Homo sapiens: one gene and its partners. The protein of the gene in region 1 purifies or fractionates together with the protein of each later gene. This does not show direct contact. Each region holds a gene or a part of one and is shown in the gene's direction. Other genes may lie near its edges. The genes, in order: RSF1, WDR11 and RRP15.

The links.
Region 2: the proteins of RSF1 (region 1) and WDR11 fractionate together in Homo sapiens (co-fractionation; one large-scale study listed by BioGRID). This does not show direct contact.
Region 3: the proteins of RSF1 (region 1) and RRP15 fractionate together in Homo sapiens (co-fractionation; one large-scale study listed by BioGRID). This does not show direct contact.

What each region holds. Positions count from the first base shown.
Region 1 is NC_000011.10:77,659,478-77,663,845, reverse strand, and holds the end of RSF1 (remodeling and spacing factor 1), read left to right. Parts: 3' UTR 1-3,837; downstream 3,838-4,368. UniProt on the Homo sapiens protein: Regulatory subunit of the ATP-dependent RSF-1 and RSF-5 ISWI chromatin-remodeling complexes, which form ordered nucleosome arrays on chromatin and facilitate access to DNA during DNA-templated processes such as DNA replication, transcription, and repair.
Region 2 is NC_000010.11:120,885,813-120,889,466, forward strand, and holds part of WDR11 (WD repeat-containing protein 11), read left to right. Parts: intron 1-1; coding exon 2-126; intron 127-876; coding exon 877-1,024; intron 1,025-3,265; coding exon 3,266-3,372; intron 3,373-3,654. UniProt on the Homo sapiens protein: Involved in the Hedgehog (Hh) signaling pathway, is essential for normal ciliogenesis.
Region 3 is NC_000001.11:218,305,758-218,309,411, forward strand, and holds part of RRP15 (RRP15-like protein), read left to right. Parts: intron 1-1,673; coding exon 1,674-1,875; intron 1,876-3,654.

The sequences.
Region 1 (4,368 bases):
AATATTCAGTATATTTAGTTTGCAATTTCTGAAAAGGTTTGAAAACTAGTCAGCTTTTCACACAGCAGAAGCTTTGAACTGAAATATGTGTGAAAAGGACGCAGACTGAAAACGTTTTGGTTTTGTACATCAGTGCTGATGAAATTAGTGTAAAACATTTTCCATCATTGGCACATTACTGCAAAATGATGGCAGAGATATTTTCAAGAATGTACATCAAGTTATATTTCCTTGACATCCTTTTTTCAATTGGTCAAGGTTACAGATTCAGAGGATAAAGGGTAGTTTCATTTAGAATAAATTCATGTCTACTGGCAATCTATATATAAAAGTGACCTGCCCAAGAACCAAAAACTTTAAATGCTAATGAAGCTTTTGAAAAATAATTTTTAAACAAATTAATTTTAAAAGGGTGTTACACGTACCCAGTTTTTACTTTTTAGTTGATGAAACCCATCCTATAATATACATTTGAGCAAAGTACACATATTAAGAAAAACATGGACATTTACTTGTTTAATAGTCAAAATGATGAGGAAATGTTAGCTGTTTTTAAGTGGGACTGGTGGGGTGTCCTTTGTCACAAGGAATGCTTTTTTAGCTTGTTTGTGGGCATAAGAGATGTTAACCCTTTGCTGATTCTACCACACAACTGTAAAGAACCTAATGAATCTACAAGTTTAATATTCAGAAAAAGCTAGGAACTCCGCTCTTTACCAGTACAGTGGAACAGGCCCGTTATTCAAGGTGATGCCTCACAGCTATAGAACAACTATTCAAAGACCCAGAGTTAAATGGTACATGTGTATATGTGTGTGTGTGTGTGCACACGCACACACTTCAGATAAGTATCAGAAAAAATAAAAATGAATCCATCATTAACTTGAAAGAAATAAGATGGCTGCATTGCAACAGATACAAATATTATGAACATCATTTAATTACAGAAAATCTAGACAACAGTTTCTCCTGATGTTTGACATTCTCAAAATATATTCCTCATTCTCGAAGAAGCAGAGAATGCCAAGGCTGCATATCTGCTGTAATCTACCTAGCCCTCTTCTGCTTAATATGATCCATTATTGAATCTTCTCAGATTAAAATCCATTCCTATATCATCTACCTTTCCCAAAGTGTGTGCCTGTAAACCTACCTTGGAAGTGGCAAGTTAACTGATTTTTTTGTGTCATTTTTATACCAATCCTTAAGGTCAAAGCCTTTTGCTATCAATGTATTTAAACTGAGTTGCTATATGTTCACTAATTTGTTTTCAAAATGTTTTGCTCCAACTTAAATTATCTTTTAACATCTTTTGAGTGCCAAGAATTGCTAAGTAACTGTAATATGTTGAAGAGAGTAATTGCCAAGCAAGCAGTCATAAGCCAAAATGTAATGAGCTTAGTATATAACCACTTTAGAGTATACACTCACCACTTTTTGTATTCATTCATGCAAACCCTCCTGGAAGTCGATTAGAAGAGGATCCAATTTGTGGACCTTTTTTCCTCCTTTTGGACACCTGAGCACAATTTTTTTTTTCCTTTCATATTTATACCACTTTGGAAAATTCAGTAAACCCAATTCTGGCACATCATAATGGTTTCAGTTAGTGAAGATGTTTATTTTAATAACTTTAAAATATGACTATCCTATACATAAGTTATATAAGAGGGCATAACAATAGATGAGTAGAAATTTATAAAATTTCTTGGATATTTTGAATGAGAAAAAAACATTTTTAAAGGAATTTTGTTTTTTCCTTTTTTGGCCAAACCGGTACAAGTTAGAAAGTGTGCTAAGGACTGAATACTTGCCTCGTGCTTTTTGCCACTGGATGATGTAAGTTAAGAATGGAATTGTTAATCCTAAGTATATATTTTCTTGACTTTCATCAGTTTCTAAAGAAATCTAATTTAAGTGTTTTGCGGTTTTGTTTGATCTGTATTTATTGAGTTCTGGTCATAGACCAGCAGCTTGCACGTCATGCTCATGAACAGCCAGAACATAGTTATTGGGGAACTTCATGGCTCAAAACCTTCTGAATCATTTAACTTATTTTGTATGTTGCAAAAAAAAAAAAAAAGTTTATTTTGCTTGAGAGTCACCTTTTTTTAAAAAAAATAACTGTACAGCTTTTAAGGGATGGGAGGTGGGAAAATACCCTAAAATAGGATGTAGATTTTTTACAATTGTGTTTATGCTAGATCATCTACAGGTGCATTATGTAATTAAACCTAAAATTGTTTAAAAATTTGTGCCATGTCTTTTTCATTCTCCTGCCCTTTAGCAGAATTGGTGCATGTCAACTGCTATGTGGACAAGCCTTGAAATTAGAGTAACAAGCCCTGTCTCCAAAGCTTTAAGGTCACTGCATGAAAATTGCACACACACACACACACACACACACATCTAGCTTATATTAGTAAATGGATTTTCAGGATCAGAACAGCTACAGTAGCCCAGATTTGGCTGTTAACAGCATATTCTTACAGCACATGATTTTTGTGATGCCTAACTAGGGTATTCTCAATGTTAGTCTGGTGTTCTATTCTCTTTCAAAGTAGCTTCTTGAGATGGTATCTGTTGTAGCTTGCCCAAACCTGCCATGAGGTTGTGTGTACACTTTGAAAGGGTATGTCCTATGCTAAGATGGTGGTAGAGCAGGGCTTGATTTTAATCTATTCATATAAAAGAAGGAAAAAACTAGAATTGGTCTATTTGGTTATTCAGTGGACTTAATTCCACAGGAATAGTTGTCTGCTGAAGCGTGGCAGCAAGAGAAGTCAAATTCAAGTTTCAGTTCCTTCCTTATTCACTAAGTATTTTGAAATCTTGTAGAACTTCTGATTCTAGCACAGTCTTTTACATGGCACATTTTACCATGGTATATTCACAGCTTCGTTTAAATGTCAGTACTTTTTCCCATCTGATAATTTTGCCATTCTAATTTCTCACCTTTGTAGTACAAGTGTATTCTTGAAAATAATTAAATTCATCTAAGTGTGTCATAATTTCAATCAAAGCTATATTCATGTGTTGCCAGCGTCAGTTTTTTGCTATCCTCATTCAGAAGGGAAGCCTGCAGATCATGAGTTTCCATATGAAGAATACAAATTCCACATAAAAATTTATAAATGGTATCTTTAGAATTTTGATTTAAAGTAATAGCTGGAATTCAGGGACTGATCAGAATGCCTCTTGAATTTTCCAACATGCTTATATGAAATGCTTTATTTTCCTATGCGTTAAAAAAAATATTCCTGGAATAGGTTCTCAGAATGTTTTATTTGGTTTCTAGGAGATGAGATTTAAAGCAGAAGCTCCAAGATTGGCATAAAACTAACTCTTGAGGTAATCAGGACCATGCTGTTAGTCAAATAGAAGCTGGAGTGCTCTCTGTCACATAATGTACTGCATGTGTGTGGGGGTGGGGGGGCAGGGAAGATCAGAAAACTGGAAATGTAATTCTGATAACACGCAAAGTAAATTGTGCATTAAAAGTATGGGAATTCTTGGTAGCTTAAAGCTTCAGGGGTTAACTTCAGTGTATGAACACCTAGTGTGTTAGAATTGCAGTGCATAGTTGTTTAAATACAATATTCCTTGTAAGTGACAACCAAAATATGTTGTGGCTGGTGCCAGTATTTTTGTTAATGAAATGTTCAGTGTCTCACTACAGTCTGATCAGAACTCTTGGTGTTATAAGCCAGGCCTAAAGCCATTTTATAGCTATTGGCCTAATTGTGTAACTTTTTCTTTCAAAATGTTTTATTATAATACTTCTGTCATTTCTTTCACTTAATATGTCAATTGTCATAATAAAAATTTAAATTTGAATTATTTAGCATGATGTGTTTGCAAACTTAGCTTATTTTAAATTTTGTGGCACATGGAACAAATTGTCTGTAACAGTTCATGACGGTTAAAATTTATCACCCAGGCCTAGATGAATTGTTCTCCCGCTATCTAGAAAGTAAATTTGCAAGTGCATCAGTTTCCCTAAAATAATTTTTAAGGCTATTTGCCAACTAGACAAATATAGATATTAGAAAACTATTATTGATTTCTATATTTAGCCTCTGGAGAACTAACACATTATAGAGGCTGTGGACTTGTTCTGTGTGGTCCCATAAGAGCACAGAACTAGACCAGAGGACAGAAGCCATAGGGCAAAAGTTTTCCATTCATTCTATGGAGGAAGCTTAGTTCTCTAATAATAAACAAGCTTGGAAGTGAATTATTAGGAATAGGGGATGTTTGGGAGACCAAACATCCACACATTGATCCACGCCTTAAAAAATGGATTAAACCAAATGACTAACCGGTCCTTCCAACCCTGAGTAGGCTTCTCAGCTACAAATGATTTGA
Region 2 (3,654 bases), on another chromosome or scaffold:
GGAGTGGTCACCATCTCACAACTTGAAGAGCCTGAGAAAGAAGCAACTTGCAACTCGAGAGGCCATGGCCCGCCAGACCGTAGTCTCAGACACAGAGCTGAGTATTGTTGAATCATCTGTGATCAGGTACAGTACAGTGTTTCTTGACACTGTCATTTGTGCCATTAGCATCATGTCTGGGAAGTTGACAAGTATCATCGGAAGGTGTCTATGGTAGCAAGTTGGACTCTGCTTTTGAACATACTTAGTTTCATCTTTCAGTACATACCCAGATTACTAAAAAGATAATTTTATCATTTTTAGTATTGTACTATACTGTTTGTTATAACTAATAACATATGCAGTAATATTCACCCATCAGCATCTAGTAGTAAATGTGCTCATTCCGAGTGCCCTTCTACTCCATACACTTCAGCTTCTGAAATTCAAATGAACATAGCATAGACATACAGATAGATCATATTATCATTTATACACACCAAAGAAAATGTGTTGGGAATCCTAAATTTGTGTATCATCCCCATCCATACCAATCTTACAGATAAAAGGCTTCAGAGATAATGTTGGGTCACTGTACAGCCTCCCTTCTGTTGAGCACAGTTCTATAGCCAAAATCTCTATGAATTTTATTTTTCTTGTGTTAAGTTTAGATCACCATTTCTCTCTGTGCAGGGTAAACTTCCTCTGATGTTGTGGCTGTTAAGGAGTGATTCATGTTTACCCATAATTAGCTGGGCAAATATTAGTTTCAGACTTTTAAAAAAATAGTTTTGGACCTCCTCTTAATGCGTCTGTACTTTGGGCAAGTTAATTAATTATGAGTATCACTCTAGGGGAAAAAAAAACATCTTTATCATATGTTTCACTATCCCAAAGCTTGCTGCAGGAGGCAGAAAGTAAATCTGAACTTAGTCAGAACATCTCTGCCCGGGAACATTTTGTATTTACCGATATTGATGGCCAAGTGTATCATCTCACTGTTGAAGGAAACTCAGTAAAAGACAGTGCTCGGATTCCACCAGATGTGAGTACAACCTTGATTAAATCTTCATCAAGAAGATTTTGTTTTGTTGGTTCCATATCCAGTGAAGGCATAGTTAAGTTGGAAACTTCAGAAAAGCCTAATGTAAATAAACTTTATTTAAGGAGATATTATCGATTAAACTTGTTCCATACTGCTAGAGAATAACGCTGTAACTATTTTGATTAAATGTTTACTGTGTGCTACTCATTTTTATCCCTGTAATAATCCATGAGGAGTTATCTCCATTTTACCCATAACAAAACTGTGGGAGAATAAGTAACTTTCCCAAAGTTATCCAGCTTACTCATATGGCAGAGCAGTGTTTTAAACTCAGGCCTGTCTGACTTCAGTATCTGTCTTCTTTCCATTTCAGGCATTACCCTGAAGGATTTGACTTACAATCTAGTATTATTTTTGGATAATAGTAATCAGGTTGTAAGTGTAATAGTATTATTAACATTTACTAACTTACATATATTCTTATGGCCTTGTGGAATCTGTAACTAAAGTTTTGCCATTAATCATTTGTGTCAGCATGCATCTCATAGATAGTTTTTAATAGATGGATCATGAAAATGTTTATGTTAATTAATGCAGGCTATTATAATGGTTAAATGAAGGCATGAGGGGATTTTTTAAAATAGGTATATTTATTTTAAATTGCTATCTAAAAATGGAATGCTCTAGTAGAATGCCAACCCCCATAATTTTATAGGTGGCTTTGGGGTCTCATAAAGTTACAATCTAGATGTTGGCTGTGGCTACAGTCTTTTGAAGTGTAATGGGACAGAAGGATCTATTTCCAAGTTGGCTGCCTCACAGGCTATTGCACATTAATGCTGGCTGTTGACGAGGGACCTTAGTTCTTCATGTCGATCTTTCCATAAGGCTGCTTGAGTGTCCTCACGACATGACAACTGGCCTCCCCTAGAGTAAGTGATCTGATAAAGCAAGAAGGAAGTTGCAGAGTCTATTATGACCTGGTTTCAGAAGTCTCTTCAAAGGCAACTTCTTAATTAAACATTCTATTTTATGGCTAGGAAAGTAGATATCTTAAAATGTTGCTTCATATTATATACAGAATTTCATTTCTTTAATATTTTTTTTTATTAATGGACTTTATTATAATATTGATTTTTAAATCCAGTTTTTGTTTTGTTTCTTGACTATTACCAGAGTTTTTACGGTATTCAGTGTGTGTGCTAGTCCACTAATGGTCAATTATTCAAACCACTAGAGTTTTCTTACTTTTTACCATGGATACCATTTGAATTTTTATGTTGTACAATAAATGCAAAAATAAAATTTCTTTTAATAAATAGAGAAGTAATTGAGCAGTAATATTATTTAATAGCTAACATGTATTGACTATTTACTGCATGGCAGGCATTGCTTTAAGGCCTTTGCCTTTATAAATTTATTAATACTAGCAACAACTCAAGTTTCATGAACTTACCCTACTTTATGGACAATAAATCCAAGACAGAAAGGTTAAGTAAACATGCCTCAAATCACATACCAGTTTCAAGCTGGGATTCAAGCCCAGGCAGTGTGACTGCAGAGCCCAGGCTGCTGAGCCCTCCATGATACCACCTCTGAGCATCTATTAGAACTGCAAGTTCCTTTCTTCCTCCAAGTTAGATTGACTACAGCAGCATTTCATTCTTATGTTGTGCTTCTATATGTAACTTCTGAGCAAAGCTTTCTGTGAATTTAAACTGCATATGCCTTTAGTAAACAGCATCTCTTCACCTTCATGATTCCACAATGTTCCAAAACGTGTCAGTGAAGCTCTGGATCCTTTTTTCAATAGAAAAATCACGGCACAATTAGTTATAAAAGAGCTTTAAGTTTCCCTTGGAATGGATTTAGTTATCCTTTTGCAGTGAGAGATAAGTTTGAGTTGGCTCTCTGGAAAACCTTCCCTTTACTTCTCTGTTTTTCTTACTTTAATTTCCCCCTTTTTTTTTTGAGGTATTTGTTCCTCAAAAGACATCCCCTCTCTTTAAATCTAGTTCCAGTAACTACTTAATGTCTATGAAGTTGAAATCTCCTATTTCTTCATAGTTGAAATTGATAGGCAATGTAGCTCTTTGTTAGTGTCTAAAGTCTGTTTTAGGATTTGATGACTAAAAGCATACTAAAGCACAGCCCTTTAAATTAAGTTTTATTAAAATATTTATTATAATGTCTTATACAGCATAGTGAAATTTATATTTGTTTGTTGCTGTTGTTTTCTAGGGAAGTATGGGTAGTATTACCTGCATCGCTTGGAAAGGTGATACATTAGTGCTTGGAGATATGGATGGAAATTTAAATTTCTGGGACTTGAAAGGCAGAGTATCCAGGTATAAGCCAAGAATGAAATCTTGTTATTTCATTAAAAAAAAGAAATGAAATCTTTTTGTTTTGTTTTGTTGAGATGGTGTCTTGCTCTGTCGCCCAGGCTGGAGTGCAGTGGTGCAATCTCGGCTCACTGCAAGCTCTGACTCCCGGGTTCATGCCATTCTCCTGCCTCAGCCACCCGAGTAGCTGGGACTACAGGCACCCACCACCACGCCCGGCTAATTTTTTTGTATTTTTTTAGTAGAGACGGGATTTCACCATGTTAGCCAGGATGGTCTCGATCT
Region 3 (3,654 bases), on another chromosome or scaffold:
GAATTACTTTTAAATTCTTGTTACCTAAATTATTTTGGTCATTTTCTAATCCATCTCGGTGTTACACAGTGCGATAGCGTGGTGTGGTGAATAAGGGCATGAGTGATAGAGCCAGTGCTCGGTTCAAATCGTAGTACTGGCTCTTACTAGCAGTGTGTCCCTGGGCATGCTACTTGATTTCTTTTTCTCTCAGTTTATCTGTAAATAGAGGATAATATACCTAGCCTATAGGGTTTCTTTGATAATTAAATGGATTAATACATATACAGAACTTAGAAAAGTACAGGCTCAGTACATGAGAGTGAGTGCCTCCTTAAAATTTATGTCCTAGGCGCCTCCCTTTCCTCACCCTGGTCCTGTCACTACTGTGAAGGGTCTGGAATTTTACTCTCCTTATAAGCTCATAAGCTAGCCTGTCAAAGTTTCCTGGATGCTGATAGAAGACAAGACACTTTGGATCAAAGACAAAGGACTTTATTATTCATGGCAAAAACAGTAGCAGAGCTTCATGTTCCCACTGTTTCCTTTGTCCCATAGAGGGAGTGCAGGTGTCCTAGATGGATGCCCGCATGTGCAATATGTTGTGTTACAAGAACTGGAACACTGTGCTTGGGATTCTATCACTTTTATACTGATTGGTAACAAGCCTGCTCTTTGTCGGGGGGAGATGTTACCTCATCCCTCAAGGTCACTACCTACAAACACAACCCTGAGAAATGGCCTGGATAAAGAGCAGTCAGGTGCATTCATTCTTGAAAAATCCAGCAACCATATGCAGGGATGCTCAAGGCCCAATAATTATTGGAAGAGGCAGATTGCCTCTTATTAGAGCAAGAAAATTCATAGATTGCAGAATTTTAGAGCCGGAAGGGATCTTAACAGTCTAAATCAACGCTATCCAGGAGAAATGAATGTGAGCTACATTCATTTGTAATTTAATATGTAATTTAAAATGTTCTTATAGCCACAATGAGAAATATAAAATGAAAGAGGTGAAATTAACTTCAATAATATTTTATTTAACTCTGCATTCAAAATATTCATCATGTGGTCAGTATGAAGCAGTTATTAATGATATTTAAGGATTCTATTTTTCATACTGAGTCTTTGAAATCTGGTGTATTTTCATTTACAGCACATGGCAATTCAGACCAGTCACATTTCAAGTGCTCACTAGCCACATGTGGCTTGTGGCTCCTGTATTGGATGCTGCAGGTCTTAATTTTCAGAATTTATCTTTGAATGAACTCAAATAAATACAGAACATAGTTTTTAAAATAAGTATTTTTTAAAGTAGGATTTTACAATGGTTTCATAACACAAGAGTTGCAGATAACGTAGCTAAATACTTTTTAAGCTACTGAGGCATTATTTTTCCAATTTACAGATGAAATTGAGATCCAGAAAAATCTTTCTTGGAGTGAAGCACAAAGTTATGTACCAATCCACATTTGTTATCTGTTTAGAAATTTATATTCATTCATTGAAATGTATATTCATTTTTCAGTTGTATTTATCAAATGTATTTAACCACTTATCCCGTTCTTTCCTTTGAGTACTTGTTAAATGCTTGCCTCTTTTCTAGACAGTGAAAATACATTTTTCCTATCCTCAGAGTTTGTATTCTAGGGTAATTATTTAATACATCATTCTGGTCATTTTATATTCTACAGGGGTGTGGTGCAATTATTTAATGCTGTTCAGAAACATCAAAAGAATGTTGATGAAAAGGTTAAGGAAGCTGGAAGTTCTATGAGAAAGCGTGCTAAGTTGATATCAACTGTTTCCAAGAAAGATTTCATCAGTGTTTTGAGAGGGATGGATGGAAGTACAAATGAGACTGCTTCAAGCAGGAAGAAACCAAAAGCCAAACAGGTAAAAACTTTTCTATAGGATTCAGTGTATCAGACTTTCAGCTCTAAAACTAGTCTTGAGATGGAAAACCAGACTATAGAATTACAGAGTTTTGTGTTTTTTTCCTAAATTTTATTAAAATTCCTCCATGCCCGCAACCTTTAGAGATAGGGCTTGCCTCTCTCCTATCTGAAATCCTGCCATTTTGCACATTTTGGAGAATAGAAGCCTGTGTGGGCCACAGCTTTAATTTCAGACTTTACCCATAGAGGGTGTGTAACTTACAAAATATGAAGAGTCAGAGAGTTTTAGGAAATAATGGTAGAAAGTCATTCTTGCATTGAGGCATCTTTAGTGATGTTTGGTTGAGAGATTAAGAGCATAAATACTTTCTATGACCTTTGGCATGAGAACTTTGCTTCTCCAGCTGCCTCAGTAGTTTCTTTCTTTCTTTTTTTTTTTTTTTTTTTTTTTTTTTTTGATGGAGTCTTGCTCCCTGGCCCAGGCTGGAGTGCAGTGGCGCGATCTCGGCTCACTGAAACCTCCGCCTCCCAGGTTCAAGCAATTCTCTTGCCTCAGCCTCCTGAGTAGCCAGGTTTACAGGCACATGCCATCACCTCCGGCTAATTTTTGTATTTTTAGTAGAGACGGGGTTTCACCATGTTGACCAGGCTGGTCTTGAACTTCTGACCTCAGGTGATCCACTCGCCTCGGCCTTCCAAAGTGCTGGGATTCCAGGTGTGAGCCACCGAGCCCAGCCAGTAATTTCTTTTTAATGTACCAGGTGAAAGGTTTTGAGATGTGCTTTACTTTTATAAGCGGTGGGTTTCTATTGTTGTCGTTTTAAAAAAGCAAAATATGTAGTTATATTTTGATGGCTTGATTTCTGTTGCCAAAACCAAAGGTACTTTTAATCAGTCAGGAAATGAGAATTTCTGTCATAAATTTTTTTGTTTGGGAAAATAATTGAAACCCGAGCAAGAAGAGCATTTAGGAATTTTATGCTAGCCTAGGGTTGGAGCATTTTTTAAAGTTTCTTAAGTTCATATTTTACCTAAGTGACAAAAGTTTTTGAATCTACTTGTCTCTTTCTTGAATATCAAAGGGCTCAAATTGTATTTTTATATAATAATAGTTCTCACTAGTGCTGCTATTTTAAAGTGTCTATCAGAAGTACTTGTAAATACATGAACACTGTGTTTGGGGATTTATACTTTTTAGTTCAAAGGCTTTAATAGGCTGTATTCTCGCTAGTAACATTTTACTGTAAGAGTTAGAGAAAGATTCAGCAACATTGGATGGGAAAGAACTAGTGGGAAGATGAAGAGACTTAGTTTTTTTTCTTTTTCCTATTGGTTTCAAAATAACATTTTATAGAAGCACATACTTTTGCTTTGGGATTATTTCTTTCATGAGTTATGAAAATACACAACAGATTCTTTCCACTGGCATTGTATTTTTTTCTTACCATTTGCACTTGCCCTTGACTTTCTTTTTTTCTACTTCAGTGATCACAGTATTTGTAAGTCTGGGACAAGGTCAAAAATTGCTTGAGACTTAAGCCAAAGTGATTTTGCTCTAAAAGTAATTTGTTTCTAGAACACCCTGCCCCATGCCATCAATACCCTGACATATTTCTTTCTTTTAAAAATGTGTGTTTTCATGTTGATTGCATATTTATGGAAAAACAGACTCCTTTTTAAAAATTTTGCTTGAGTTTGCATCTGAATAACTATGAAAGTACTACACTGTTTGAGATTGGATCAGTTACTGATATAAAGCATATTTCTTGGCTGGATG